Homo sapiens: one gene and its partners. The protein of the gene in region 4 purifies or fractionates together with the protein of the main gene of each other region. This does not show direct contact. Each region holds a gene or a part of one and is shown on either strand. Other genes may lie near its edges.

Region 1 (7,026 bases), on a different chromosome or scaffold from region 4:
TAACATGATTTTTTTTCTAAATATAAATTGCCCGAATTAGTGCAGACATTTATTTTTCCACGTCATGCACCTGATAAAATCATGATGCAGACTGATATGTGCGCCTATCTGGTTGGCAGGCTAAAAACCAACCAACCTGCAAAGGTGTACCAACTTGCCTGTAACATAACATGCCCAGCTTAGTGAAGCTCAGTTAGAGCACCATCTTCCTCATCAATACGTTTCTTGCAGTACTCACCGGCTGCAGGAGCTTTTATGTATAGTGGTAGTTCCTCAAAGGAGAATTTACCTGGTAAATGATGTGAACATAAGGAAGATCTTGAGAGAGTGGATACACTGAAGAGGATTTCTTCCCATTATGCAGACGGTTTGTAAGTTCAGAAAGACACCGTTGCATTTCAACCAGGTTCCTAGATAAAATTTCCACTTCCTTAGACAGCTGATAAGTTTCCTTTTCACTTTGTAAGTTCTTTCTTTGAGGCAAACGAGGAGGCTCCAGTGTGCTGGTGTGGTCTGGTGTGCTGCTGTGTCTGGGCAGCGATGCTGGCTGGGTAACAGGCTCAGCATCTAGAGCTATGGAGCCATCACAGATACTAGACAGAGGACTCTGGATTTCTTTAATAAGTGTTCTTCCAGGCCTTCCATTCTGACTACTGGTATTAACTGTCAGCAACAGCCCTTTGTTTTGGTGACAAAAATCTGGGGAAAGACTTTCAATTAACTTTTTTCTATTTGCTTTATTTAACGGAGCACTGAAAGTAGAGTAGGTAGTCTGGCTTTCACCTGATGTTATTGAAGGTTCTTCTTCCAACATTATTTCTCTAACAATCAAGCTAATGGCATACTGATCAGACTTTGAAGAAGGAAGAAATGTTGTATCAGTGAGTTTTTGTTTTCCTACCAAAATTAGTAATAGTTGGTCTGTCAAGAAACATATCCCTTTTGGTCTTTCAGTGTTCTCTAATCGAATTTGCTGGATGTTTGGGACTGAAGATGGAATGACAGAGTAGATCAAAATTATATTACAAGTGTTGGAAGCCACTGCCACTACGTGGGCTTTAAGATTAAATGCTATCAGATCAGGAACCAGAATGCCTGGAATAGTGACTTTTCTCGTCATGGTAACTGCCTTCTTAAAGGTCACAAGGACCAAATGTGAAGAATCTTGGCCAGTTCCTGTCAAGTAGTCCTTTTTTCTTAGACAAATAAGAGAATTACCCTCAGACTTATGTTGATTGAAATGTATGTGAGTTAGATCCAGAGGTTCTAAATAGGAAGAAGAAACTGATACTTCAGAATTTGTTTCAGAATCAGTTGCCTCTTTATCCATAGAGCGTACTTCACCAATAACTGGTAAAGCATACGGAGTCATGTCTTTACTGTTAGGTGGGATATTAAAGGTTTCAGATGCATTTAAGCCACAGATCTTATCCAATGGAAGCTCAGTAGCTATAGCAACCTGTGAGTCCACAGTTGCTGTGATGGAGCAGACGTGGCTGTCCACATCAAACACCAGGCAGGAGGAGCACCTGTGAAGAGTCTTCTGAGCGCTGTCCCAAATATAAGAATGCAGGCTGCTGCCTACTGCCACCACCAGCCTCAGGCCATCCTGGGTCCAACATGCACAGTGAATGCGGCCCTGGGTGTTGATGTCTGCCTTTACCTGGGAATCATCAGAGTGAACATTAGGGAAAATGGAGACATCCTGAGCAGTCAACACAGTCAGAATAGCACATTTTGGGTGCCACACACAGCCCTGGGGAAGGATAGGTAGTGATCCTCTAATCTCACAAGTCTGAGACGTCAGCCATTTGCTTGACTCCATAGGGCTGGGACACAGCTGCCACACAGTGACATGCTTCTCATGCTGGACAGCGAGTAGAACAGGTGTATCATCTGCAACAGGTGGGGCCCAGGACAACCCACAGACACATTCAAACTGTCCAATGACTTTGGAGTCCCCAAACTTGACCTCTCCACTGTGAAGCCGCAAATCAGTTAGGACAACTTGATTCCCATCGGTCCAGGCAAGGCCATGGATCGGATGCACTGCTTGATGCAACGCATTCAGTCCAGTCCTGAGTAGTTTTCCTTTTCCCAACTCCATCCTTTTGATAAAGGTTACCTGAAATGATTAAGAAGGAAAGTTACACCATGAGAAATCTAGACAAATCTAGAATGTAGGACATTTGGTAAGACAACGGCTTAGCCCCTTCCCAGGTTAATAATGTGGAGAGACAAAAGGACAGGGGGAGTATTATAAATTAAGAGACTACTGAGCTATCAGGCAAATGCAATGTATATACTTTGGATCTTGAAGAAATAAAATCTTCTACCTAATGAAGATTTTTAGAACTGGGGAAATCTGAGTATGGAATGGATATCAGAAAATATTGTAGAGTTATTATTTTTCTTCTTTTTTTTTTTGAGACGGAGTCTCACTCTTGTTGCTCAGGCTGAAGTGCAATGGCACAATCTCGGCGCACTTCAACCTCTGCCTCCTGGGTTCAAGCGATTCTTCTGCCTCAGCCTCCAGAGTAGCTGGGATTACAGGTGCCTGCCACCAGGCCCAGCTAATTTTTTTTTTATTTTTAGTAGAGACGGGGTTTCACTATGTTGGCCAGGCTGGTCTCAAACTCCTGACCTCAGGCAATCCACCCACCTCAGCCTCCCAAAGTGCTGGGATTATAGGCATGAGCTCCCGCGCCCGGCCAGAGTTATTAATTTTCTTAAGTGTGAACATGGTATTGTGGTTATGCAGGACAAGGTCCTTATTATTTAAATAAGCATGTTGAAGCACTTGGGGTAAAATGTCATGATGCCTACAATGTGCTTTCAAATGGTTTGACAAAAAAAACCCAAATTTTCTATAGACACACAGAAAGAAAACAAATGTAGCAAAATGTTAATAATTGTAGAGTCTAGATTGAGGCTATGTTAGTATTTATGGTACTTTCAACTTTTAAGTTAGAAAATTTTCCAATTAAAAATTTAAGAAAAGTCTCCTCCATCATCTAATTTCTATTCGTCCTTTCACTGCCAAATCAATGAATAACTGATATGCACATCTCTGACTTTATTAGCACTTATTTCAAATCCTTCCAAAGTGGCTTTTATCCCTCTATTGAAATGACACTCAAAAATCACTGTTTCTATTTCTACTTCTACTTCATCTTATTCAACAGCACTTAATAATTTTCAGAACATTTTCACATTCCCTATTGCATTTTATCTTACAATAATCTTTTAAAATAATGTAAAGTAGGTTAGGCAAGTATTATCTTCATTTTTTCACCCTGAATATTTTTCCCCCAGGCATTTGAATCACTAAAGAAGCATATGCTTAGGGCTGGGCGTGGTGACTCACGCCTATAATCCCAGTACTTTGGGAGGCTGAGACGGGAGGATCACCTGAGGTTGGGAGTTCGATCCCAGCCTGACCAACATGCAGAAACCCCATCTCTACTAAAAATACAAAATTAGCCAAGTGTGGTGGTGCATGCCTATACTCCCAGCTACTTAGAAGGCTGAGGCAGGAGAATCGTTTGAACTGGGGAGGCAGAGGCTACAGTGAGCTGAGATCGTGCCATTGCACTCCAGCCTGGGTAACAACAGCGAAACTCCACCTCAAAAAAGAAACAACAACAACAAAAAACAAGTACATGCTTAGGCTGGGCACGGTGGCTCATGCTTGTAATCCCAGCACTTTGGGAGGCTGAGGCGGGTGGATCACCTGAGGTCAGGAGTTTGAGACCAGCCTGGCCAACATGGTGTAACCCTGTTTCTAATAATAATACAAAAATTAGCCGGGCATGGTGGCGCATGCCTGTAATCCCAGCTACTCAGGAGGCTGAGGCAGGAGAATCACTTGAACCCAGGAGGTAGAGATTACAGTGAGCCAAAATTGCACCATTGCACTTCAGCCTGGGCGACAGGAGCAAAACTCTATCTCCAAAAAAAAAAAAAAACTGTTCCCTCCTACTCAGTGCCAGCCCCTTTAGCTCCTCCTCCTTTCCAACATTTCAAAGCCTTGATAAAAGCATCATTAACAATTTGGTGTTTAGCCTCTGAAAATGTTAAAGAAAGACACAAAGATATATAGGATTTTACATGTTATGGCTTTTCTTTTAAACAAAAAATGGGGTAGCCAGGCATGGTGGCTCATAGGCATGAGCCACCCAGCACTTACACCCATTACACCCAAAGTGTAATCCCAGCACTTTGGGAGGCCCAGGCAGGCAGATTACCTGAGGTCAGGAGTTCGAGACCAGCCTGGCCAACATGGTGAAACCCCATCTCTACTCAAAATACAAAAATTAGCTGGGCTCGGTGGCAGGTGCCTGTAATCCCAGCTACTCGGGAGGCTGAGGCTGGACAATTGCTTGAACCTGGGAGGGGAGGCGGAGGTTGCAGTGAGCTCAGATGGCGCCACTGCACTCCAGCCTGGGCAACAAAAGTGAAACTCTGTCTCAAAAAAAAAAAAAAAAAAAAAAAGATACATATAGTCAGTAGGGAGAATAAGGACATTATTTGGATAAGCTGTAATACCTGAATACTCACTTTGAAATATAAACATAAAAAATACTATTTAATGTAAAATGAAAAACTGCCTCAGGAAAATTATATTTTGAAATACTATCAATCAGTGGATACATAAATATATAATAATGGATATAAGAATAAAATGTTGCAATAATAAACACAGACTGAGAAAGACTAATTTTAGTATAAAGCCTGGGTGTGGCAGCTCACGCCTGTAATCCCAGCACTTTGGGAGCCCGAGAAGGGCAGATCACGTGAGGTCAGGAGCTCAAAACCAGCCTGACCAACGTGGAGAAACCCCATCTCTACTAAAAATACAAAAAATTGGCCGGGCGCAGTGGCTCACGCCTGTAATCCCAGCACTTTGGGAGGCCGAGGCAGGCGGATCACGAGGTCAGGAGATCGAGACCATCCTGGCTAACACGGTGAAACCCTGTCTCTACTAAAAATACAAAAATTAGCCAGGTGTGTTGGCGGGCGCCTGTAGTCCCAGCTACTCGGAAGGCTGAGGCAGGAGAATGGCGTGAACCCTGGAGGCAGAGGTTGCAGTGAATCGAGATCGCACCACTGCACTCCAGCCTGGGTGACAGAGCAATACTCCGTCTCAAAAAAAAAAAAAAAAAAAAAAAATTAGCTGGCTGTGGTGGCGCATGCCTGTAATCCCAGCTACTCAGGAGGCTGAGGCAGGAGAATCGCTTGAACCCGGGAGGTGGAGGTTGCAGTGAGCCGAGATCGTGCCATGGCACTCCAGCCTGGGCAACAAGAGTGAAACTCTGTCTCAAAAAAAAAAAAATTTAGTATAAAAACAATTACTGGGCCAGAGCCAGGCGCGGCGGCTCACGCCTGTAATCCTAGCATTTTGGGAGGCCGAGGCGGGCAGATCACCTGACCATCAGGAGTTCGAGACCAGCCTGACCAACATGGAGAAACCCCGTCTCTACTAAAAATACAAAATTAGCTGGGCGTGGTGGCACATGCCTGTAATTCCAGCTACTCAGGAGGCTGAGGCAGGAGAATCACTTGAACCCAGGAGGCGGAGGTTGCAGTGAGCTGAGATCATGCCATTACACTCCAGCCTGGGCAAAAAGAGTGAAACTCCGTCTCAAAAAAAAAAAAAAAAATTACTGGGCCAGGTGGCTCATGCCTTTAATCCGAGCACTTTGGCAGGCCAAGGCGGGTGGATCACCTGAGGTCAGGATTTCGAGATCAGCCTGGCCAACATGGCGAAACCTCGTCTCTACTAAAAATACAAAAAAATTAGCCAGGAGTGATGGCACACTCCTGTAATCCCAGCTACTTGGGAGGCTGAGACACGAGAATTGCTTGAACCTGGGAGGCAGATGTTACGGTAAGCCAAGATGGCACCACTGCACTGTAGCCTGGACAACAGAGTGAGACTCGGTCTCAAAAACAAAACTAAACAAAATGACTGTTGGCCAGGCACAGTGGCTCATGCCTGTAATCCCAACAATTTAGGAGGCCAAGGCAGAAGGATCACTTGAGCCCTGGAGTTCGAGACCAGAGATCAGCCTGGACAACACAGCAAGATACTGTCTCTACTTAAAACAAAACAAAACAAAACAAAAAACCCCCCAACAATCTACAAACATATATAAAGTGATGTTTAACCTTATTAGTTATCAAATAGTTGTGTAAACTGGCAGTACTCATATTTTTCACCACTCACTCTCTTCTTAATATACTTAAAATGAATTCCATTCCAATTTCTTCTCCAAAACATCTCTCACCAGGCCACCAGTGCTTCCCTGTCACTGAATCTAAATGACATTTTTCAGCCTTGTTTTACTGAGTAAGTGTCAAAGGCAGAACTTGAGAAGTTGTCTTCAGACTCTAAATCCAATGAAATGTATTCTCTACCAACCTGGTGATTTGCTTATCTGTAAATTATTTCGCATATCTCCTTGCTAGCTTTGTCCTTGCTCTTAGGATCTTTCACTTAAAAAAAAAAAGGGTCTATTATGCTTTTATATATGATGTCAGATTCAGTGGTTCTGCAGCGGCTTGCTAAACGGAGAAAAAAGTCCAGTCATTACTAATGAAGAAAACTGTGATCTCTGTCCCACTGGTCTTATGAAAGATAATAATGTTTTCTCCCTAATATCTACTTATGTACTTTAAAAAGAATTTTATTGATAAATAATGCCATGATACACTTTCATGGGCAGAGAAAATTCCTAATGGGCCAATTACATCCAAGTCGATTTATATATTTTAGGATACCAAATTCTGTCTAATGTCAATGAGGGTGTGTGTGGCCAGGGTAGCACAAGACAAGGATTTGGGAATAAGAGAAAAACAAACATAAGTTTACTGAGGTTTTTTTTTGGGGGGGGCGTGGGGGCACAGTCTTGCTCCGTTACCCAGGCTGGAGTGCAGTGGCATGATCTGGGCTCACTGCAACCTCTGCTTCCTGGGTTCAAGTGATTCTTGTGCCTCAGCCTCCCAAGGAACTGGGATAGGGGC
Region 2 (7,026 bases), on a different chromosome or scaffold from region 4:
CTTATAACATGACACTTAGCAAACGAAAATGGGATTGGATCTACTTTGTTGGGTTTTAATTTAATTTGCTGAAATGCAAGTTTGTATTAGGAAATAAAGCATACAACTTCATATATGTTACAGTGATCCATGGCACTCTACATGACACATTTCTGACTTTAACTCTGGAGCATCAGGCTGATAATTTTTTTTTATCAGTTCTATTTTGGAAATAAACTTTCAAGTATGGCAGCTATGGAAGGTGTTGAAGGCATTCCAGTGCTATTTGTGGCCTGGAATCAACCAGATGTGTTTAGGCTTGGCACTGGCTTTAAGTTCCAAACACTGGTTAGAAACTGCCTGGAATGCCAAAGGAAATACAGCATTCCCTAGCTGAAGAGTATTTTAACACTCAACAAGTGGCTGACATCTTATGGAAAACTTTAGAGGGAAAACACTATTTGGAATCAGTTCAGCCTCCATGATATACACCCTCCTAATTTGTATTTTCTAATGGTTTCTTCTCTGATTTTTATTCTTAGACTCCTATGACTGATAAGACAGTCTTGACATCCTCTTTCCTCTGTTTCTTCCACTCCCTCCTAACTTGGCAGTTTGCTCCCATTTAAGACCTAAGATCCCCTTTCAAAGCAACTATCTCATGATATAACAAGCAGAGGATATACATGCCAATGCCAGCGATGATGCCATCTTTATCACTTTTGTACAAGTCTTTGTTTTAAAAATGTAAGGAAGAGAATTACCTGATGAAAACATGTGCTAGATCACTAGAAATGTCTTGTTGAATAGAACATTTTTCCAAGTTTTAAAATGAGACAATTAGCAATGGAAAGCTTCCTGTCTGAGAATTTTCCTCCAGCAGCTTTCTAAGTTCTTCTTGTTTATTAACTACATTGCATCAGCAAGCATTAGAAAACCAAATTGTGGGATGGAAATGCATCTTCCTAACTCTCCATCGATTAGACCGGGGTGTGTTGATCTTTCAGGCATAAGTACACACGCTTATGCCTGAGTCTGGACTCGCGTACAGAATTAGTGGAAAGAGACTTCATGCAAAGACACTAATCACCCTGTCATCTTGTTCTTTCTCCCAGGAAAAAGACCACATCAGTGTCAGATTTGTAAGAAAGCGTTTAAACACAAGCACCACCTTATCGAGCACTCAAGGCTTCACTCGGGCGAGAAGCCCTATCAGTGTGATAAATGTGGCAAGCGCTTCTCACACTCGGGCTCGTACTCGCAGCACATGAATCACAGGTATTCCTACTGCAAGCGGGAGGCGGAGGAGCGGGAAGCGGCGGAGCGCGAGGCGCGCGAGAAAGGGCACTTGGAACCCACCGAGCTGCTGATGAACCGGGCTTACTTGCAGAGCATTACCCCTCAGGGGTACTCTGACTCGGAGGAGAGGGAGAGTATGCCGAGGGATGGCGAGAGCGAGAAGGAGCACGAGAAAGAAGGCGAGGATGGCTACGGGAAGCTGGGCAGACAGGATGGCGACGAGGAGTTCGAGGAGGAAGAGGAAGAAAGTGAAAATAAAAGTATGGATACGGATCCCGAAACGATACGAGATGAAGAAGAGACTGGAGATCACTCCATGGACGATAGTTCGGAGGATGGGAAAATGGAAACCAAATCAGACCACGAGGAAGACAATATGGAAGATGGCATGTAATAAACTACTGCATTTTAAGCTTCCTATTTTTTTTTCCAGTAGTATTGTTACCTGCTTGAAAACACTGCTGTGTTAAGCTGTTCATGCACGTGCCTGACGCTTCCAGGAAGCTGTAGAGAGGGACAGAAGGGGCGGTTCAGCCAAGACAGATGTAGACGGAGTTGGAGCTGGGTATTGTTAAAAACTGCATTATGCAAAAATTTTGTACAGTGTTAAGGCCTAAAAACTGTGTGGTTCAGAGACTAATTCCTGTGTTTAATAGCATTTATACTTTAAGCACAACTAGAAAATTGTAAGAATTGCACTCTACTTATGTATCACTACAAACTTTAAAAAACTATGTCTAATTTATATTAATACATTTTAAAAAGGTGCCCGCACTACCATACATCAGTATTTTTATTATTATTATTGTTATTCCTTTTTAATTTAATGTGCTCGCACTACAATGCATCAGTATTATGATTCCTCTGTACTTTCCTTTCGCTATTCATCAATTTCCCATTTTTTTTTTCAGCTTAAGTAACCACACAATTTTAGGCCTCAATTTTTTTTTTTTTCTGTGAAGGAACTTGAAGTGATGCATGTGTGAATTTAAGATACCGAAGTCTTAAAGTGACCTGGACGTGAAGGAAAAAGTAAGATGAGAAATAAAGAAAGCCTTTGTAAGGTGGTTTTAAAAGCCTTATATGCAAACCTTTTAATCTGTGTTTCTGCAAGTGCCATCCTTGTACAGTGTTAAGAGGGTAACATGGGTTACCTTTGCACCAGCTTCAGTGTTAAGCTCACCCTGTTCTTTGAAGCACCCATGTCAGTATTAGAAGAATAGGCAGCAGTTCCTTAGTTTACATATGTTTGTGCAATTATTTTCTGTACTTTTTTGTTCATTAATTTTGTCAGTATTACACCAAACTGTTTTTGCAACAAAAAAATTTTTTTTGCATTCATTTAATTTTAGGTCAAATAACATTTTATTTATGTGGCTCATTTTATATTTCCTAATTTTATTTATTTCATACTGTAGTGTACAGTATTATAGTTCTTCAATATATAGATATATTTTAGTAAAAAAGGAACATGACGTTGATCATTTGGGCAAATTTTACGTAAAGAGAAGAGCATTTATTGTGTTTTGGAACATTAATTGTGAGATGGGATTTTTCAATTTTATTATTTTATTTTTGTTTTTTTCCAATTACTGGAAATTCCAAATTTGGGAACTTTTGATACGATCTTGTGAAAACACTGTATTTTCGACTGAAAATTCCACTTTCTTCATCTTGTTTTTTAGCTAAAAAGAGGGACTGTTAAATACAATGTATGATACCATGACAAAAATCTTTCCTGAATTGTCTTTGTAAAAGTATTATTGAATTTTCAATTTGTAATTTCTTTTGAAAATGACCATGCTCGAATAAAAATGTAGCCAAACTAAGAATGTAGTTAATGAGTTCTGTACTTTTAGAGAGTTTTCCTTCAATGACCATTAACATGTAACATGCTTTATGCTTATAATAATGCTAATTATGTTTTTTTCATATAATTTTAGTTTAGCAATAATTTTGACTGGTACCAATAACTGTTTTTTAAAATTCCATACCTATGTACAGCAATTTTACAGCTTTTCTCAACTGATCCTGATTCCAGATTGTGTATTTTTATGTGAGGTTATATTATTCAAATTTAGTCTATTTACTTTACAGACATTTCTACTTTTGCATTACGAGTATTTAGAGATTATGTGTTAAAAATTCACTTCTCTGTCCAAGGGGTCTTTGTGATTTATTCAAAAAAAAGTCTAATTTCAAAAAGACAGCTATTATTCAGTGTTATTTATAATATGTAACCTTTTTTAAAGGATTGGGATAGTTTATCTCACTTTTTGAAATGCAGACAGTAGTTTACCGTTTATCTGAAACTAGAAGGCGTGGGTGGGAGAGGAAAAGCTAAAAGCAAATGCTAACAAAAATAACCGTGATTTTCTAAGACAGTTTTTCAGTTTTTACAAGATGACCCTAATATTCAGAATATGAATGTATTCGTAGGTTTTACATAATGACTTTTATCAAGAAACTAGATTCTGCTTCTTAAATCTAATTGCCAAGTGAAGAATAACAGAAAAAACAGATTACCTTATCAAATTTACAGCTCTTGAATATACAGAACTATAATATAGTAGCTGTCCATGTATTTTTTCTACTTTAGAATCAAAGAAGAAAAGCATCATTTTGCTATTAAATTTGCTAAAATTTTGAGTATGATATTTCCAGTTGGCAAGAACAACATATTTATATTTATTCCTTAGCCATAATACCACTTTCCTAAATTTCACAAAAGTCATTCTTTGCAACTTGAAACTCAATAGAAAGTGTGTATGTGTGTGTGTGTATATATATATATATATACACACACACACATACACAGAAAGGATGTAATGAAGATACAGTAATAGTTGAGCAGACCTTTTTAGAAAAACATGTTTTTAGCTCTATCTTCAAACTTTCTGGCAGAGGGGGTGGGGGGGGCAGGGGGAGGAGTGGCATCAAAATGCTATGCCTCCTGTTATCCACAGCCTAGAGTTTTTATATTTGGAAAGTTTAGAAAATTCTATCCTCGTTTCTCCTTCTTTGAATGGCACAAATAAATACACTACATAAATTTTTCTGGTTTGAAAGGCTCTAGGCGATAACTTTATTAATTCAACCTGAAAATATCAAGCCATTAAATTTTGTCCGGGTAGAATAAATCCCTGTGGCCTCTTTTAAAGCAATGTAGGTCTCTGTTGCCCATGGGGCATATCTGTGTCCCAATCCACAAGAGATAGGACCAACAAACAATGAATGTGCAACCTAACTCTTTCTCCTTGGAAAGAAGAAAGTGTGCACGAAGTAGAGGAGGGTGGGCAGACCCTGCCTTGCCCCTCCTGTTACCCCCTTCTCTGTCATTTGTTCCTAACTCCATTTCATAGGCAGGCTCAGAATACCTGAGTCTGAAAATATCAGGATAACACTTGTGAATTGTGACAATCACTACAATGTCCCATATCTGAGGAGTTTTTTTTAATGCTATTTATCCGCTGGACACGATTGCACATTAGGGCTGCATAATCCTCTAACTCTAGGGAAAAATAAAAACTTTTGATTTGTCTTAAGATTCTTCTCCAAGGTCGCAAACAAGAAATTCCCCTCCACAACCAAGAGATGTGCATTTTAGTAACATCAGATGTGTTCTTCTGTTTTATCAACTACTTACTCTTCCCACACGCTTAGTTCTAAATCTAACCTTTCCCCCCTCGAATAGGGGGCAGGGGAGGATGAGGAAACACTGGAACAACTGAACACCCCTGCCCATTTTCTCCAAGAGCCTTTTGTATTCTAGCATATCTGTGCAATCTTTTCTTTTTTCTTCACATGACACTGTAAGCTTAGGCCTGAAATAACTGGGAAGAGAGATGCGTATCAGAATTTCTCCGCAAGAGCTAAACAAAACATACATCTTCCTTAGCATGAATTGGACTGGGGGCGGAGTGGGAGGGCTTGGAGGAAAGGGGAAAGAAGGGACTATATTTGAATAAATATGAATAAATGTATTAGATACTTTTCACAATCAGATAACTTTTAAAAAGGTCATTTTTTATCTTTCTAATAATGTAAGCCTTAATAAAAGCAAATCTTAGTCACAAATTTGAGGAGACTGCCCAATAATAAGTTTACATGTATTTGAACTGAAAAATTGTTAACCATGCTTTTGCTCCAAGATGTGTGAGGCCATTCAGGGGCTGTAGGGCCCTGGATATACACACAAACAAGTGTGTGTATATCTGGAGCCCCACACATTGTAATAAACACAGCTGCATTTATTTGACTATGTGATCCCATGTACATGTAAAAACATTCAAACAAACACACTCAGCGGATTTATTTATTGTGCAATGGGGCAATTATTCAAATAAACATGCTCAATGCAATTATTTGAATCTCACATTGCATGTTCATCAATCATAGCACTAAAAAAAGAGGGGGAAAAAACACCAAAGAATTCACATGGGGAAAAAATATATATATGAAAACCACCTTATTATAGATTTTATAGGGCAGCTGAGGTTATGGCTCCCTTCTTAACTGTAACTCAACTATTCTGTATTCAATGACATTTGTTTCTAATGATTAATTGGTTCACTCACTTGATCATATAATAGCAAACTTTATAAACCTGTATTGTGTAGAGATGTGAAATCTCTATATTTCAAGAGCAGAAGAGTTCTTTCTAGACACCTTACATCAAGGGACACTGGTCCAATTATTATCGCTTATATAAGCACTCCTATAAATTCTGAAAAATTTTATACATGCAACAAAACATTCCTACATTTGAAGACATTAAGAAAAATCACAGGTGACTCATCTGATCATTCTATATATTAATAAATATTATGACATATATGTGAACACATCACAAATCATATTGGTGTACCAAGAGGCAATTTATGCCTCTCTTAAGTATGTACTGACATAACCTAATATACTAAAATGGGAAGGGGCTTTTAGTCACTGAAATATGCATCGTGTAACAAAGATGAAGAAAATACATGGCTTGTGCCCATCATAAAAAAAGATTCAGACTGAAGGCTTAGCTTTGGTTTTTTCAATTAAATTGTTAAACTGTGCACAGTGATTTTTTTTTAGAACTTGAGACATTTGTGATGTTGGCTGTTTAAATCTTTGTTACCTTCGCTGTGAATTGAAATTGTACATATTTAGTAAATCATGCAGACAAAACAAACTTTTTAGACAATATTTTTATTGGAGAGTTTTCTTTTCCTGTATCCATGTTAAAAAAAAAAAAGACCTCCTTTCCCAAAATAAAAATGTCAATACTAAATTTAAAGAAGTATAAAGGAATGATTGCTTCCTTTAGAGCAAAATATTTAAATAAACATGGAGATAATTGGCAACATGTTCTTTTTGGGCTAGTAGGCTGTGTCCAATTTTTTGGGTCTGATGTTTCAGAGGGCCTCTGTTTCAGGGTTGAAGATGATATATTAATCTCGGAATTAAACAAATGCTATTAAATAACAGAAATAAATCCTTCAGTCTTCATTTGTATCTGAAATGTGGAATTAGTCAGAGAAATGGCACCGAGATAATATGATGCTGAATATGCCACAAGCTAAAACTTTCTCTATTAAACGAGTCGCCTACTACCTATAATCTAGCATGACATGTTAAAATGCTCCAAAATACTGAAAATAGAAAATGAACACTACTGTTCCGATTTGGTCTTGAGATTAATATGACAAAGATTCTAATAATTTTAGTCAAAGAAAATGATGAGTAAAAAATACATGAAGATTA
Region 3 (7,026 bases), on a different chromosome or scaffold from region 4:
CTTTTATAAAAGTCTCCTGGACTACATAACACAAATATTTGGAGAGACCATTATCAGGTTATTCTTTCTATTTTCTCACAACAGAACAGACTCAGCTATGGGTTCAACTAATTTTATATATATTATTCATTCAAAGGTGTATCTATACAGCTTTCATTAAACAGTATTAGCTCAAAGAGTTTGTTGTTGTTATTTTAAGACTGGGTCTCAACTCTGTCACCTGGGCTGAAGTGCACTGGCACAATCACAGCTCACTGTAGCGGCACTCCCGGGCTCAAGTGGCCCTCCCACCTCAGCTTCCCAAGTAGCTGGGACTATAGACACATGCCACCACACCTGGCGCCACCAAGCCCAGGTAATTTTTGTATTATTTTGTAGAGACAGGGTCTCGCTACATTGCCCAGGCTGGTCTTGAACTCCTAGGCTCAAGTGATCTGCTAGCCTCGGCCTCCCAAAGTGGTGGGATTATAGGCGTGACGACTGTGCCTGGCCCAAAAATTATTTTAAAAATCAGCTGTGCCTGGTGGTATGGGCCTGTGGTCCTAGCTACTTGGGAGGATGAAGTGGGAAGATCACTTGAGCTCGGGAGGTCGAAGCTGCAGTGAGCTGAGTTTGCACCACTCTACTTCAGCGTGGGCAATAGAGCAAGACTCCATCTCAGAAACAAAAATAAAAATAAAAAGCGCCAGGCACGGTGGCTCACGCCTGTAATCCCAGCACTTTGGGAGGCCGAGGTGGATGGATCACGAGGTCAGGGGTTCGAGACCAACCTGACCAACATGGTGAAACCCCGTCTCTACTAAAAATACAAAAAAAAAAAAATTAGCTGGGCATGGTGGCGGGCGCCTGCAATCCCAGCTACTCAGGAGGCTGAGGCAGGAGAATTGCTTGAACCCGGGAGATGGAGGTTGCAGTGAGCCGAGATCGCACCACTGCACTCCAGCCTGGGCAGCAGAGCAAGACTCTGTCTCAAAAAAAAAAAAAAAAAAAAAAAAGAATATTTTCTGCCGGGCACAGTGGCTCACACCTGTAATCCCAGCACTTTGGGAAGTTAAGACAGGAGGAATGCTGGAGCTCAGGAGTTTAAGAACAGCCTGGGCAACACAGGGAGACCCTGCCTCTACTAAAAATAAAAATAAAAACAATTGTCCGGGCATGGTGGCCTGTCCCAGCTACTCAGGAGGCTGAGGCAACAGAGCCAGACCCTGTCTCAAAAATAAATAAATAGACTAGGCGCAGTGGCTCACACCTGTAATCCCAACACTTTGGGAGGCCAAGGCAGCCGGATCACTTGAGGTCAGGAGTTCGAGACCAGCCAGGCCAACATGGCAAAACCCCATCTCTACTAGAAAAAATACAAAAATCAGCCAGGCGTGGTGGTGGGTGCCTATAATCCCAGCTACTCAGAAGGCTGAGGCAGGAGAATCACTTGAAACAAGGAGAAGGAGGTTGCAGTGAGCCAAGATTGCATCACTGCACTCCAGCCTGGGCAACAAGAACGAAACTCTATCTCAAAAAATAAATAAATAATATAAATACAAAAATTAGCCAGGCATGGTGGCTCACACCTATAGTCCCAGCTACACGGGAGGCTGAGGCAGAAGAATCGCTTGAACCCAGGAGGCGGAGGTTGCAGTAAGCCGAGATCACGCCACTGCACTCTAACCTGGGCAACAGAGTGAGGCTCGGTTTCAAATAAATCAATCAATAAATAAACAAATAAATTAATTAATTAAATAAACACAACAGCCCTTTTCAGAAAGCAATGGTTTTTAAAAATGTCACCCATGGCCCGAAATGTTCCCTAGAGTTTCAACTGGATATACACTCCTCAGTTCCTGTCCTGAACTATTGAGCAGTGTTACAGCATAGCTGTTAAAGAAGCCGCCACTTCCACCTCAAAGGTAGATGCAGTGATGAGTCAAGCTTTCTTCCTAGCATGTTGTAAATGCCAAATGTGTACTAATACAACAGGAATATGAAGAAAGAGGACAGAGAATCAAGATATAAGGGGACCACTGAGAAGCTGTTGATAGTTTTCATGCTGCCACCATGTTTACTATAACATAATAGGATACAATTGAACAAGAAAAATTAGATAATAATATAATAATAGGGCCGGGCACAGTGGCTCATGCCTGTAATCCCAGCACTTTGGGAGGCCAAGGCGGGCGGATCACGAGGTGAGGAGATTGAGACCATCCTGGCTAACACAGTGAAACCCCGTCTCTACTAAAAATACAAAAAATTAGCCGGGCACGGTGGTGGGCGCCTGTAGTCCCAGCTACTCAGGAGGCTGAGGCAGGAGGATGGCGTGAATCCAGGAGGCAGAGCTTGCAGTGAGCCGAGATAGCGCCACTGCACTCCAGCCTGGGCAAAAGAGCGAGACTCCATCTCAAAAAAGAAAAAGAAAAAAATATATATATAAAATAATAGGTCCCATTTATTGAGCACCTACTATGGGCCTGGGATGATTTTGTGTAATCCTCACAGCCCTGTGAAATTGGTATTATCATCTCCATTGTATAGATGAGAAAACTGAGGCTCAACAAAGTTAAGTGGGCCGGGCATGGTGGCCCATGCCTGTAATCCCAGCACTTTGGGAGGCTGAGGTGGAAGGATCACCTGAGGTCAGGAGTTCGAGACCAGCCTGGCCAACATGGCAAAACCCCATCTCTACTAAAAATACAAAAATTAGCTGGACGTGGTGCTGGGCGCTTGTAATCCCAGCTACTCGAGAGGCTGAGGCACGAGAATCGCTTGAAGCCGGGAGGTGGAGGTTGCAGTGAGCCAAGATAGCACCACTGCACTTCAGCCTGGGTGACAGAGCAAGACTCTGTCTAAAAACAAAAAAAAAAGAAACAAAGAGAGTTAAGTGAAGACCTGGCACGGTGGCTCATGCCTGTAATCCCAACATGTTGGGAGGTTGAGGTGGGCAGATCACTTCAGGTCAGGAGTTCAAGACCAGCCTGGTCAACATGGTGAAACCCCGTCTCTACTAAAAATACAGAAGTTAGCCAGGCATGGTGGTGGGCACGTTTAATCCCAGCTACTCAGGAGGCTGAGGTGGGAGAATAGCTTGAACCCAGGAGACGGAGGTTGCAGTGAGCCGAGATCACACCACTGTACTCCAGCCTGGGCAACAGAGCTAGACTGTCTCCGGTTAAAAAAAAAAAAAAAAAAAAAAAAAAAAAAAAAAAAAGACGGGTGCGGTGGCTCACGCCTGTAATCCCAGCACTTTGGGAGGCCAAGATGGGCAGATCACAAGCTCAGGAGATTGAGACCATCCTGGCTAACACGGTGAAACCCCGTCTCTACTAAAAAAAAAAAAAAAAAAAAAAAAATTAGCCGGGCATGGTGGCGGGCGCCTGTAGTCCCAGCTACTTGCGAGGCTGAGGCAGGAGAATGGCTTGAACCCGGGCAGCGGAGCTTGCAGTGAGCCGAGATCATGCCACTACACTCCAGCCTGGGTGACAGAGTGAGACTCTGTCAAAAAAAAGAACGAAAGTAAGTTAAGTGACTTGCCTCCTGCCACATAGCTAAGAAGTAGAACAGCAAGCACTCTAACCTGAGGTTGTCGGTCTCCAAAGCCCCCCCAGGCAATTCTGAGGAGCTCAAGTTTGAGAACCACTGTACTATACTAACTGGGGTGTGGTACAACCAAGTTAAACTGAGTAAAGCCTCATTATCAGAAGATAATCATCTCATGGATTCAGGTATACAGTGCATCAACTCACCTCTGCGATCATAGTCATATACGGTGCACTTCTCCACAAAACTTGGAAAAGCAAAAATCTGCTTGTTCTCCTTGTCCCTGGACATCAGCATTATAACAAAACTCAACAGTACCCTTAAATGGCACTAACACTATGATTTCTAGGCATACCTTAGTAATGAGGTAACCAAATTTTGTTTCTCAGCAGACCCACGGTAAAGAAGCCCAAAACACAAAGCTTTCCCTGCTCCTTGGTACTCTGGATTCCTCACGGACCTTCAGCTTAAGGTTTTCTTAAAATACAAATGAAGAGGTATCCTGCCTCACATACTGTGATGAGTAAATCTGAAAATTACCACATTTTACAAATAATATATCAGCTGTATTCAAATTCATCATAATTCATTGACCAGGGAAAATATGACCTTGACATGCAGCCTGCAGTTACTCAGTTACTTTTTTTTTTTAAAAAAAAGATCCTTTTTTATGTTTTATGGGGAAAAGGTCACTTCTGCTTAGAATAAAAAAGAAAACTAGAACAGCATATTTGAATTACGGGGATAGAAACACAGAGTTAAATTTTACTCTTGACCAGAATGAAACTTCAGTTCGCCAAAGAAAGTTCTCATCATAAAAGATTGCTTTTAAGTTATGAACAGTGGGAAAGGGAATGATTTAATTTAGAAAAAGAACCATTTCTACATTATTTTAAGGATAACCATTCAAAAATGGGCATTAATAAAGCCTAGTTCATATGTAAAATTATATCAAATACTGTACTAGCATCCTAGTGGCCGAAAAGTAGATATTACCTCCCTCTTTGGCCATCCTGACACTAAACACTCTGGCAACCATGGACTCACACCTAATTCAAACTCCAGCATTAAGAAACTTCCCTTCTCTTTGAAAACTCAAAGGCCTAGGGTCTTCCCTCTGGGTTATGTAATCATCAGTGGCTTCTACCTTTTCCTATTCTACCCCAACAATTGTGTCACTTTCTCCAGCACCCTCTCTGTTCCACTCCGGTGTTCACTTTCCCACCCAAACTTGACCTCGAATTTCTTCACTCTGATTCTGATGCTGATTGGCCCTGAAGAACAGCTCTCTACTCTCTTTGGCTGTTCTATTTCATCCCAAGCTTAGCTCAGCCCAGAATCAATGAATTACTCCATGTGGCCTCCAGTCCAAGCCCTGATTAGAGCCTCTCTTCCATGCCCCTAACCCCACCCTCCAATTCTGGCCCACAGGCTCTCATGTCACTCAGTTTTTTATCCAGTTTCACCCTGGAATTTCCATCACTCATCTCCTGATACCTAGGATCCTTCCCACCTGCAGACTGGAAACACTGGTGGATTCCCACTTTTTCCTTCTTTCAAGGCCACTCTATTTAGGACAGTGAATCCCTCCCCCCATTCAGTATCCTTACTTTAGTCTAGATTTTCTAATTAATGTTTAGATGTGTAAGGCCTGGATCCCAGCTAACCTCTGCTTCCTGGGCCCTCTCAGGGCAGTGGCTATCAAAGGCAAGATTTTCCGCTCCCTAACACCGGCTCCAAAAGATATCTGAGTAAATATCTTCCTCCTTTGGCTCTTAATTCCTCTCTTTTTCTCTCACATTCTGCATTTTAACCTGTATATAATCTCTAAGTTCCCTATTTCCTTATGGATAAATATGCTTGTATTTCTCTCTAAATGCCAGTTTCTCCCCCACCCTACTTTTACCCCATATATTCCTTCTCTCTTGCCCCAACCTTAGTGATTCCAGCATGAAATTGTAAAGAGCTTTAAGAGTTCTTCAAAGTTTACTTTGGAAAACATTGTCCTAGAGATTTCAAGGTTTGACTTTTTCCTTAGCTGGCCCTTACATGGGACCAGTGATGATCACCTTTCTTTTCCTTTCATTGCTCAACCAGCCCTCTTCCTGACTTCTCTTTCTTGCCTTCCTTCCCTCTAGTGTCCAAGTCCTTTTTTCCCATAATTCTGTTTCTCTCAAAGAAGCCCTTCCCTACAACCCATAATCCAACCAATAGTGTCCTGAGATCCTCCACTCCCTGTACTGAACATTTTTTTCTTTTTTCTTTTTTTGTTTTTTTGTTTTTTTGTTTTTGTTTTTGAGATGGACTCTCGCTCTGTTGCCCAGGCTGGAGTGCAGTGGCACGATCTTGGCACACTGCAACCTCCACCTCCCAGGTTCAAGCAATTCTTGTGCCTCCACCTCCCAAGTAGCTAGGATTACAGGCACGCCCCACCACACCTGGCTAATTTTTGTGATTTTAGTAGAAACGGGGTTTCACCATGTTGGCCAGGCTGGTCTTGAACTCCTGACCTCAAGTGATCTGCCTGCCTTGGCCTCCCAAACTGCTGGGGTTACAGGAGTGAGCCACTGCACCCGGCCCATTTTTTTCTATTTCATGAACTGCATCATAAATGAAGCAGAGCCCTGTGGAGGACCCCTCTTTTCTTCCCAAGAATGTCTATGTCACTGAGAAAGGGATCCTCCCTCTTTATCTACGCTTTCCTGGCAAATCAAAATAGCCAGACCCACATGAGTGTTTTTGGTGCAGCCATCATGTCTTGTGGAACTCCCTCCACTCTGCCCTATGCAGACTCCAGCAGCAGAGCTTGCCAGGGCCTTAGCTTTTCTCTGCCCTATGCCAACGATTTGTTTTGCTGTCCCTTCCTTATTGGCCTTTTCTAAAAATTTGCTGTCCCTTCCTTATTGGCCTATTCTAAAAAAATTTTTTAAAAATCCTCCTGAACTCAGACAAGGGAGAGGTGAAACCCCTCTCCTTCCTCATCAATGACTTACAGCCAGGACAAAAATAAACTGGGCCGGATGGATCACCTGAGGTCAGGAGTTCAAGACCAGCCTGGCCAACATGGCGAAACCCTGTCTCTACTAAAAATACAAAAAATTAGCCAGGCGTGGTGGCGGGCACCTGCAGTCCCAGCTACTCTGGAGGGTAAGGCAGGAGAATCACCGGAACCCAGGAGGCGGAGGTTACAGTGAGCTGAGATTGTAGCACTGCACTCCAGCCTGGGCGACTGAGACTCCATCTAAAAAAAAAAAAGAAAAGAAAAGAAACCTAACCACCCTTGTTGCAAAGCTGGTATCAGGATCAGCCCTCTTAAGGTCAATTTTAGTCAGGATCTGTGCCCCAAGGCCTGTACCTTTCATCCCTCACATCTGCCCCAAGGGCAGTTGCCTAAGTTGCCCTGTCAAAAGATGTCCGCCTAACAACATCCTCATGACTTAGTCAAGATGGCCACATCCCTAAACTCTACTATCAACCTTCAGATTCTCTTAACTT
Region 4 (7,026 bases):
CCAGAACCAGATGATTAAAGCTCATTAACACCCATTCCTTTCGCGTATGACGCAACTAAGCCTCATCGGGGCCAACTGGAGAAATAAGGGCTCTGAGGCGTCACAGAAGCATGGCAGCTTCCAGGCACCGCCCGACCGCCCCGTGCCAGGCAGGGAGCACCAGGTGGGGCCACTGTCAGCCCCACGGCAGCTGGGCAGAGGCGGAGCTGGGGCCAGGGCCCAGCCGGTCCCTCCCCTCCTCCTCCAAAGACCGGCCACAGGAGACCAAGCAGTACCCAGGACCGTTCGGCCAGCAGGAGGGGAGGCGCACGACAGAACCAAGGAGCAGAGTGACCCAGCAGGCTCTCCAGTGGCCGCGGCCACAAGCACGCTCGGCCCAGTCTCCCGCCCCATCCGCTGCCCCATCCGCCTGCAGGTGAGCAGAGGCCACCGAGCTGCCAGTATCCAGGAAGCAGGGAAGTGCCTCCTGGAACCCATGGCAGAGAAAAGAAATGCTCTGGTGGACAGCCCAGGGGTGCAGTGGGCCTGCAGCACACGCCTGCAGGGGACGGGGCATGGGTCTCCACTGACCACCCCAAAGCCGAGGGCTCCCAGTACGGCTGGGCCCATGCCCCTCCCGTGAGGTCCTCGCGCCCTGGCGTCCTCGGAGGAGCCACTGGCCATTCCACCCACTTTCCTTCAAGATAGGAAACCAGATCCCAAACGTGAGGTCTGCACGGTCAAAACCGCGTCCTGGTTCGCCTGTTCCTTCATTCCCTCTGGACGGGAGCTGCCCACGAGCACCATAGACAGGCCGCCCAGTGACACTGTACATGGCCTCCCTCTGCACGTGGCCTCCCTCCCCGCTGTGTGTGGTGGTGATGACTTCTCATGAGCAGAAAGGTTTATGTTGCTGTTTCTGAGTGAGTGGATAGACATCCGCTCTCAGTATCCTTGGATTTCACTTCTGATGAGGAAGGCATGGACACACGGGATCACTGCAGACCGCTCGGCTGCGTCAGAACCGCCTGGGGGGACTCCTGGGTGCTGGGTGAGTGGGAACCGGGTCCCTCGTCAGAACCGCGTGGGGGACTCCCGGGTGCTGGGTGAGTGGGAACCGGGTCCCTCGTCGGAACCGTGTGGGGCACTCCCGGGTGCTGGGTGAGTGGGACCGGGTCCCTCGTCGGAACCGCCTGGGGGGACTCCCGGGTGCTGGGTGAGTGGGAACCGGGTCCCTCGTCGGAACCGCGTGGGGGACTCCCGGGTGCTGGGTGAGTGGGAACCGGGTCCCTCGTCGGAACCGCGTGGGGGACTCCCGGGTGCTGGGTGAGTGGGAACCGGGTCCCTCGTCGGAACCGCGTGGGGGACTCCCGGGTGCTGGGTGAGTGGGAACCGGGTCCCTCGTCGGAACCGCGTGGGGGACTCCCGGGTGCTGGGTGAGTGGGAACCGGGTCCCTCGTCGGAACCGCGTGGGGGACTCCCGGGTGCTGGGTGAGTGGGAACCGGGTCCCTCGTCGGAACCGCGTGGGGGACTCCCGGGTGCTGGGTGAGTGGGAACCGGGTCCCTCAGCTGAACGGTGGGGAGGGGGGAGCAGGTGGAGACACCAAGCCCCATCAGGCTCAGGCACCCAAGGTGCCTCCTCACATCACCCATGAGCTGCCCCTGACCACCGTGCCAGGGTTCCCCGGACAGCCCACCCTTGCAGGCTTGGGGACACACCCAGGAGGCTTCACAGTCACACGGCCTGTGCTGAAGCAGGCTTTGCAGCATCCCCCAAGCCCAAGGCTGTTTCCGACTGCACGCACTTCCGGGCCAGAGAGCGCAGACCAACCACAAGGAACAGCTCCACAGGGGCCACGGCCCTGCTCCTGGGCCAGCCGGGTGGACACCTGAGATTTCCAGGGTTCCGTGTGGGGCTCCACCCTCGTGCTGGCGGCCTCCACATGGAGGCCCTCCGTGCCTCTCAGACACTTTCCGACAGAAACAGACAGCAGATGCCACGGACAGGCCTGACCACAGCTGTGCTCTGCCACCAGGTGTGCAGGAAGCCCTCCCTCGAGGGGCACCTGACCTCGCCCAGAGCACACCGGGGGTCAGGTGGCAGCAGTCCGGCCCGACGCCCATGCAGCCCAGGTCCCTCGACTTGATCCGAGGCAGTGCCTCCTCCACACGGTCGCAAAGAGACCGGCCGGCTTCACTCTGCCGCCGACGCCAGGAACCCCTACCAACCTGACATCTCTTAATATGGGCTCAGCTTCCACGACCATGAATTCGACTTTTCAAAGCTTTTTATCTTCAGGATCCCCAGGCAGAACCGCGTCCTGTCTCGGAGCCTCATCCCACGTCCTTAATTGTCTCGAGCCAAAGTGCTCAGGCTTCTGATCCGCGGCAATCACTGAAGCCTGCGTCGGGGTCAAAGTCTTACTAAAAATCAAACACAAGAGACACATTAAAATGCCATCGAAGGTCCGACCAGAACTCACAGACTCCAGGGAACGCCTCAGAAGTGGACCTCACTGCATCTGCCACACCCGGGACTGCTGTCTGGGACCTACCTGGACTCGGGGGCCTGCTGACAGCCAGGGGCCCCGGCTCCTGCCGCACACACGAAGGGCGCTCACCCTGAGGTTGCAGTGCCAGGCCCGAGGCCGCGCCCCTGTGGCCCCGAGGCCTACTCCTGGGAACAGTCCCCCAGGGCTGCGGCCACCCCCACAGGCTCTAGCCGCATCCAGATGTCCCCAGTGTCCAAGAACCAGGGGACGGAGGGCACAGGGTGTGTGCTGTGGGCAGGGAAACTGCGGAAAGGCTCTGCCTCCTGTTCTGGAAGCTTCTATCTCATGTCACTGATTCCCGGGCCTCTGTGACCAGGCAAGGACGTGGAACTTCCCAGGAGCCACCGGGAGAGGTGCTGCTGGCTTTCCAGCATCCAGCCTGGCACTGCCTGCACTGAGCCGCGCCGGCTCCACCTCCGACCCTCAGTGCATCCTGGCGACGCTCCCTCAATTCTCCCAAAAAAACTGCTCAGCTCTTCCTGACCGCTACGGCCAGGGCCTGGCGGGAAGCTGAGGGCACGAACCCCAGTGGCTGAATGCACAGGGGCAGGGGGCCCCTGAGAGGGCCAAGCCTTCCAGTAGAGGCTTGAGAGTGCACACGATCGCCCAGCCCTCGGGAGGGTGTCACTGAGCTGCCCACACCTGGCCCCTGCTCTGGCATGAAGACACAGCACCGAGGCTGACCCCAACGTGCAGCTGACATCAGGCTGACCAGGACAGGAGCCGGCCACCACCAGCCCAGCAGCATGGCAGGCGTGGGCTGAGACGACTGCCTGCCAGGCCAGAAGGGGCCACTCAGCCAAGCCTAAGACCCTGGTAGTGTGCTGTGAGGCCGCCCCTGCGCAGAGGCCTCGCAGACAAATCTCCAACCCTCAACTCCCTCTGCAGGATTCAAGCATACATGCCGACCATCTCCAGCTTCCAGAGACACCATCACAGGGGCTGGGGTGCAGCCCCACGCACGCACCTCCCATCCAGGGTCCCCAACACCACTCCTCATGGCAGGTGCTGTGTGGGACTCCCTGACGGAGGGCCCAAGAGCAACACTGTGGAGCGGGATCCCCATCACCTGCGCCTGAGCCCCCATGACCTGCGCTGCAGCCTCCTGCCCTGAATGCCAGATCTCCCCATGGTACCCGGATACCACATAAAAACAAACTAAAAGGACAGGAGAAAACCGCCTAAATGTCACATTTCACCCACGAGCCAGCCTGGCCAGGGGGCAAGGCACCGCGCCACCCACGCCCAGCCAAACTCATCAATGCCAGCCGATACTCATCAACGCCAGCCGATACTCATCAATGCCAGCCGATACTCATCAACGCCAACCGATACTCATCAATGCCAGCCAATACTCATCAATACTGGCCAAACTCATTGATACGGGCCAATACTCATTGATACCGGCTGATACTCATTGATACCAGTCAATACTCATCAATGCTACCCACGGTGGCCCAGTACCGGCTGCTGCTCGTCAAGACCGGCCAATACTCAATACTGCCCACAGCAGCATGGCACCAGCCGCTGCTCCTGGAGGATCATCGATACCCATCAATGCTGCTCAATGCTTATCTATACTGGCCAGTACGTGCCCACACCTGTGTCTCTGAGGAAGAAGCAGATGTGTGAAGGCCACCCTGGCCCTCCTGAAAGGACCCTGCAGTGAGGAGGCCGTGAGCTCCCGAGCTGAGGAACCTGTGGCAGGGCTCCTGGGGCCCTGCACTCCCTGGGCTAGCCCTGCCAGACCTGAGGGGCTGCACCCCATGCCACAGGGACTTCCTGTGGTTCCTTGTTCCAAGGCTGCTCCAGTTCAGGACAGACACCTGAGGCCCAGCACCTGGTTCTCCTCCAGGGACCTCTGTCTCAGAAACAGCCCTGGGGTAGGTCTGCCCACCATCTGCACCACCCTGGGGCCACTGTGCACCCACAAAGCGCCCCCTGCCGGGCCACACCTGCCCCACTGAGAGCCAGTGTCCGAGTCCTGGAGCCCTCACCTAGGGCAATGCCAGAGGCCCTGCGCACCTCACGCCAGGGAGCTGGCCTCCTACGGCCTTCCTGGCTGGCCGGTCAGGGTCAAGGGCTCCAGCTCTGTACCTTGCCCACACACTCCGAGGTGAAGGCACACGGCTCCCAGAGGGGCCTGTGCTGTCCAAATCCAGGACCCACACTGCTTTTCCTCATCAAAAACTCACAGCCGCACACGGCTCTCAGCCCAGCGACACGAGGACAGTCTCCAGCTTCTCACCCTGCAGACGCTTAACCTCATGTTGTAAGAAAGCACTCAAGGGACCCACGAGGGAAGTGAGTGTAGAGCACATGGAAGCTTGTGCTTCCTATTTTCCTGTAAATCTAAGACTGCTCTAAAACAAAAACTGATTTTAAAGTAAATGGGGGTGAGGTGAGGGGCAGCAGCCCCCAGGTTCTCTGGAGGCATCAAGTCCCGGGGGGCTGCACGGTGGCGGCCCGATGACCCCAGAGCCTCCTGGCCACATGTCAACGCCCTGTCTCTGGATGCACATCACCATCTGCTTGCCGGATCCTCCCTCCTGTTGGCCACGCCTGCCCACTCCGCCCCGATCCACGTGTGTGCTGGGCATCGGTCCATTCTGGTCTGGAGAGGGACCGGGTTGCCCCGGCACACTGGGGGTCACCATGGGCTGGGACCTGCCCCGATCCAGACAGCCACAGTGGGTCTCTGGGCACTGGGGGGGGGGTGTTCCAGGAAGTCCCAGGGGGCACCAAGATGCGCCAGGACCAAGCAGCTACCCCTGTTCCTTCCCCAGCCTCAGCACCTGGTCCTCATCCCCGCCTGCTCAGACCCAGGCTCGGCAGCTACCAACCCTCCACGTCCCTCCACTGGCCAGCCCTGCTGGGCCAACCGGTCCGCTCCCCTCCCTCACGACCTCCACCAGGACAGTGTCCCAAAAGCTCCTCCTCACCAACCCCATCTTCTTCCCCCTCCCCACAGCAGCCCCTAAAGCCGCTGCCCAGGAAGGGCTCCCCGACCACCAGAAGGGCACCCTAAGGCTGGGTGGTCTCAGCGGCCCTCACCCTGCCCTGTCCCCATAAGCCCTGATTACTCCGGGCTCGAGTGGCCCTCTCGTGACAAAGCTGCCCTGCCGTGAGTCCCCGGCAGCCATCTGGGCATTGGTGAGATGCCCCCTCTGGCTGTCCAGGCCTGGAGGCCCAAAGACTAGGGCCTGGCGGTGCTGCCCAGCCAGGGGCTGACATGAACGAAGGCTGTGCACAGCCTGACCCGGAGCCTTCCAGTCCTGAGATACAGCCACCTGCCGCCCAGAGAAAACTGAGGCCCTGCCCTGCAATGGCAGAGAAGGCAGGCCCCCAAGAGGGAGCCGCACAGCAGCATGGAGCCACTGGGCTGAGAGCACGGGGCCAAGAGAACCTCCCCCAGACAGACAAGGCCCGTCACCCACAGGTTGAAACAGCTCCTCCGACGACAGCACCCCAGACAGACACTGCCCAAGTCATCCACGAGCCGATACGGCACCTTGGACGGCAGCATCCCTGTGAGCCAGGGAGCCACCGCACTCCACGGGGCCTGCAGGGCCGCATCACAGCTCAGAGGACACAGCGCAGGGGCTGTGATCAAAGGCATGGATTTGCCAGCAAGATTCCTCTCCAGGACATCCGTGGAGCCGCACGTTTCCCTGTTTGTTCAGCGAGCACATGCACACAACCTGTGAGCTCCAGGAACCCCCAGAACGCCACCTTCCTGGCTCCTACCACATGTGGGGTATCAGGGCTACACCTTCCTCCCCTTCCCAACACAGTCTACACACGACACCACTGGAGAGACAGCCTCGGATGCCTCTGAGGCTCCTGCCAGCCACGCAGACAGGGCAGCCCAGGAGCCCCCACACCACAGACGGGCGGCAGGTCAGGGTGGCACAGGAGGGCACGGTGACACGGGCGGCAGGGAAGAGTGGCACGGGAGGGCAGGGTGACACGGGCGGCATAGCAGAGTGGCATGGACGGGCAGGGTGACACGGGCGGCAGGGCAGGGTGGCACGGGTGGGCAGGGTGGCACGGGCGGGCAGGATGGCACAAGCAGGTCAGGGTGGCACGTGTGGGTAGGGTAGCACGGGTAGGCAGGGTGGCTTGGGCCACACCAGGCCTGGAGAGTTAACGGCGGTGCCAGGGGAGGGTGCAGAAGGGGCCTGGTCCCAACACCGCCCACACCTCTCTCAGGGCCATAGCCCCAACGCCTCCCCAACCAAACCAACTGGGCTTCCCTCAGGGCCATCCTCACTCTCCTTCAACACCCGTGAGAACTGGTACCACCTGGGGCCGCCCAGAGAGACAACTCAAGGTTAACGTTTGGCTCGGCAAAGAGCCACCAAGAAATTTCTGGCTTCACAGGGAAAAAAACGAACATTTCCTTGTGGGAGATACCACATGGAATGTGTGGCCGGAGGGGCTTCTGGAAACGATGGTCAGTGACGCAGGTGGCACCTTGTGGGTTACCACGAC

Evidence for each region.
Region 1: the proteins of CTBP1 (region 4) and WDCP purify together in Homo sapiens (affinity purification with mass spectrometry; 5 studies listed by BioGRID and IntAct, with this or other methods). This does not show direct contact.
Region 2: the proteins of CTBP1 (region 4) and ZEB2 purify together in Homo sapiens (affinity purification with mass spectrometry; 8 studies listed by BioGRID and IntAct, with this or other methods). This does not show direct contact.
Region 3: the proteins of CTBP1 (region 4) and BCORL1 purify together in Homo sapiens (affinity purification with mass spectrometry; 4 studies listed by BioGRID and IntAct, with this or other methods). This does not show direct contact.

What each region holds. Positions count from the first base shown.
Region 1 is NC_000002.12:24,037,388-24,044,413, forward strand, and holds part of WDCP (WD repeat and coiled-coil-containing protein), read right to left. Parts: intron 2,126-7,026; 5' UTR 2,108-2,125; coding exon 290-2,107; intron 1-289.
Region 2 is NC_000002.12:144,384,097-144,391,122, reverse strand, and holds part of ZEB2 (zinc finger E-box-binding homeobox 2), read left to right. Parts: intron 1-1,094; coding exon 1,095-1,672; 3' UTR 1,673-7,026. UniProt on the Homo sapiens protein: Transcriptional inhibitor that binds to DNA sequence 5'-CACCT-3' in different promoters. Represses transcription of E-cadherin. Represses expression of MEOX2.
Region 3 is NC_000023.11:129,985,621-129,992,646, reverse strand, and holds part of BCORL1 (BCL-6 corepressor-like protein 1), read right to left. Parts: intron 1-7,026. UniProt on the Homo sapiens protein: Transcriptional corepressor. May specifically inhibit gene expression when recruited to promoter regions by sequence-specific DNA-binding proteins such as BCL6.
Region 4 is NC_000004.12:1,239,116-1,246,141, forward strand, and holds part of CTBP1 (C-terminal-binding protein 1), read right to left. Parts: intron 2,405-7,026; 5' UTR 2,217-2,404; coding exon 2,210-2,216; intron 1-2,209. UniProt on the Homo sapiens protein: Corepressor targeting diverse transcription regulators such as GLIS2 or BCL6. Has dehydrogenase activity. Involved in controlling the equilibrium between tubular and stacked structures in the Golgi complex.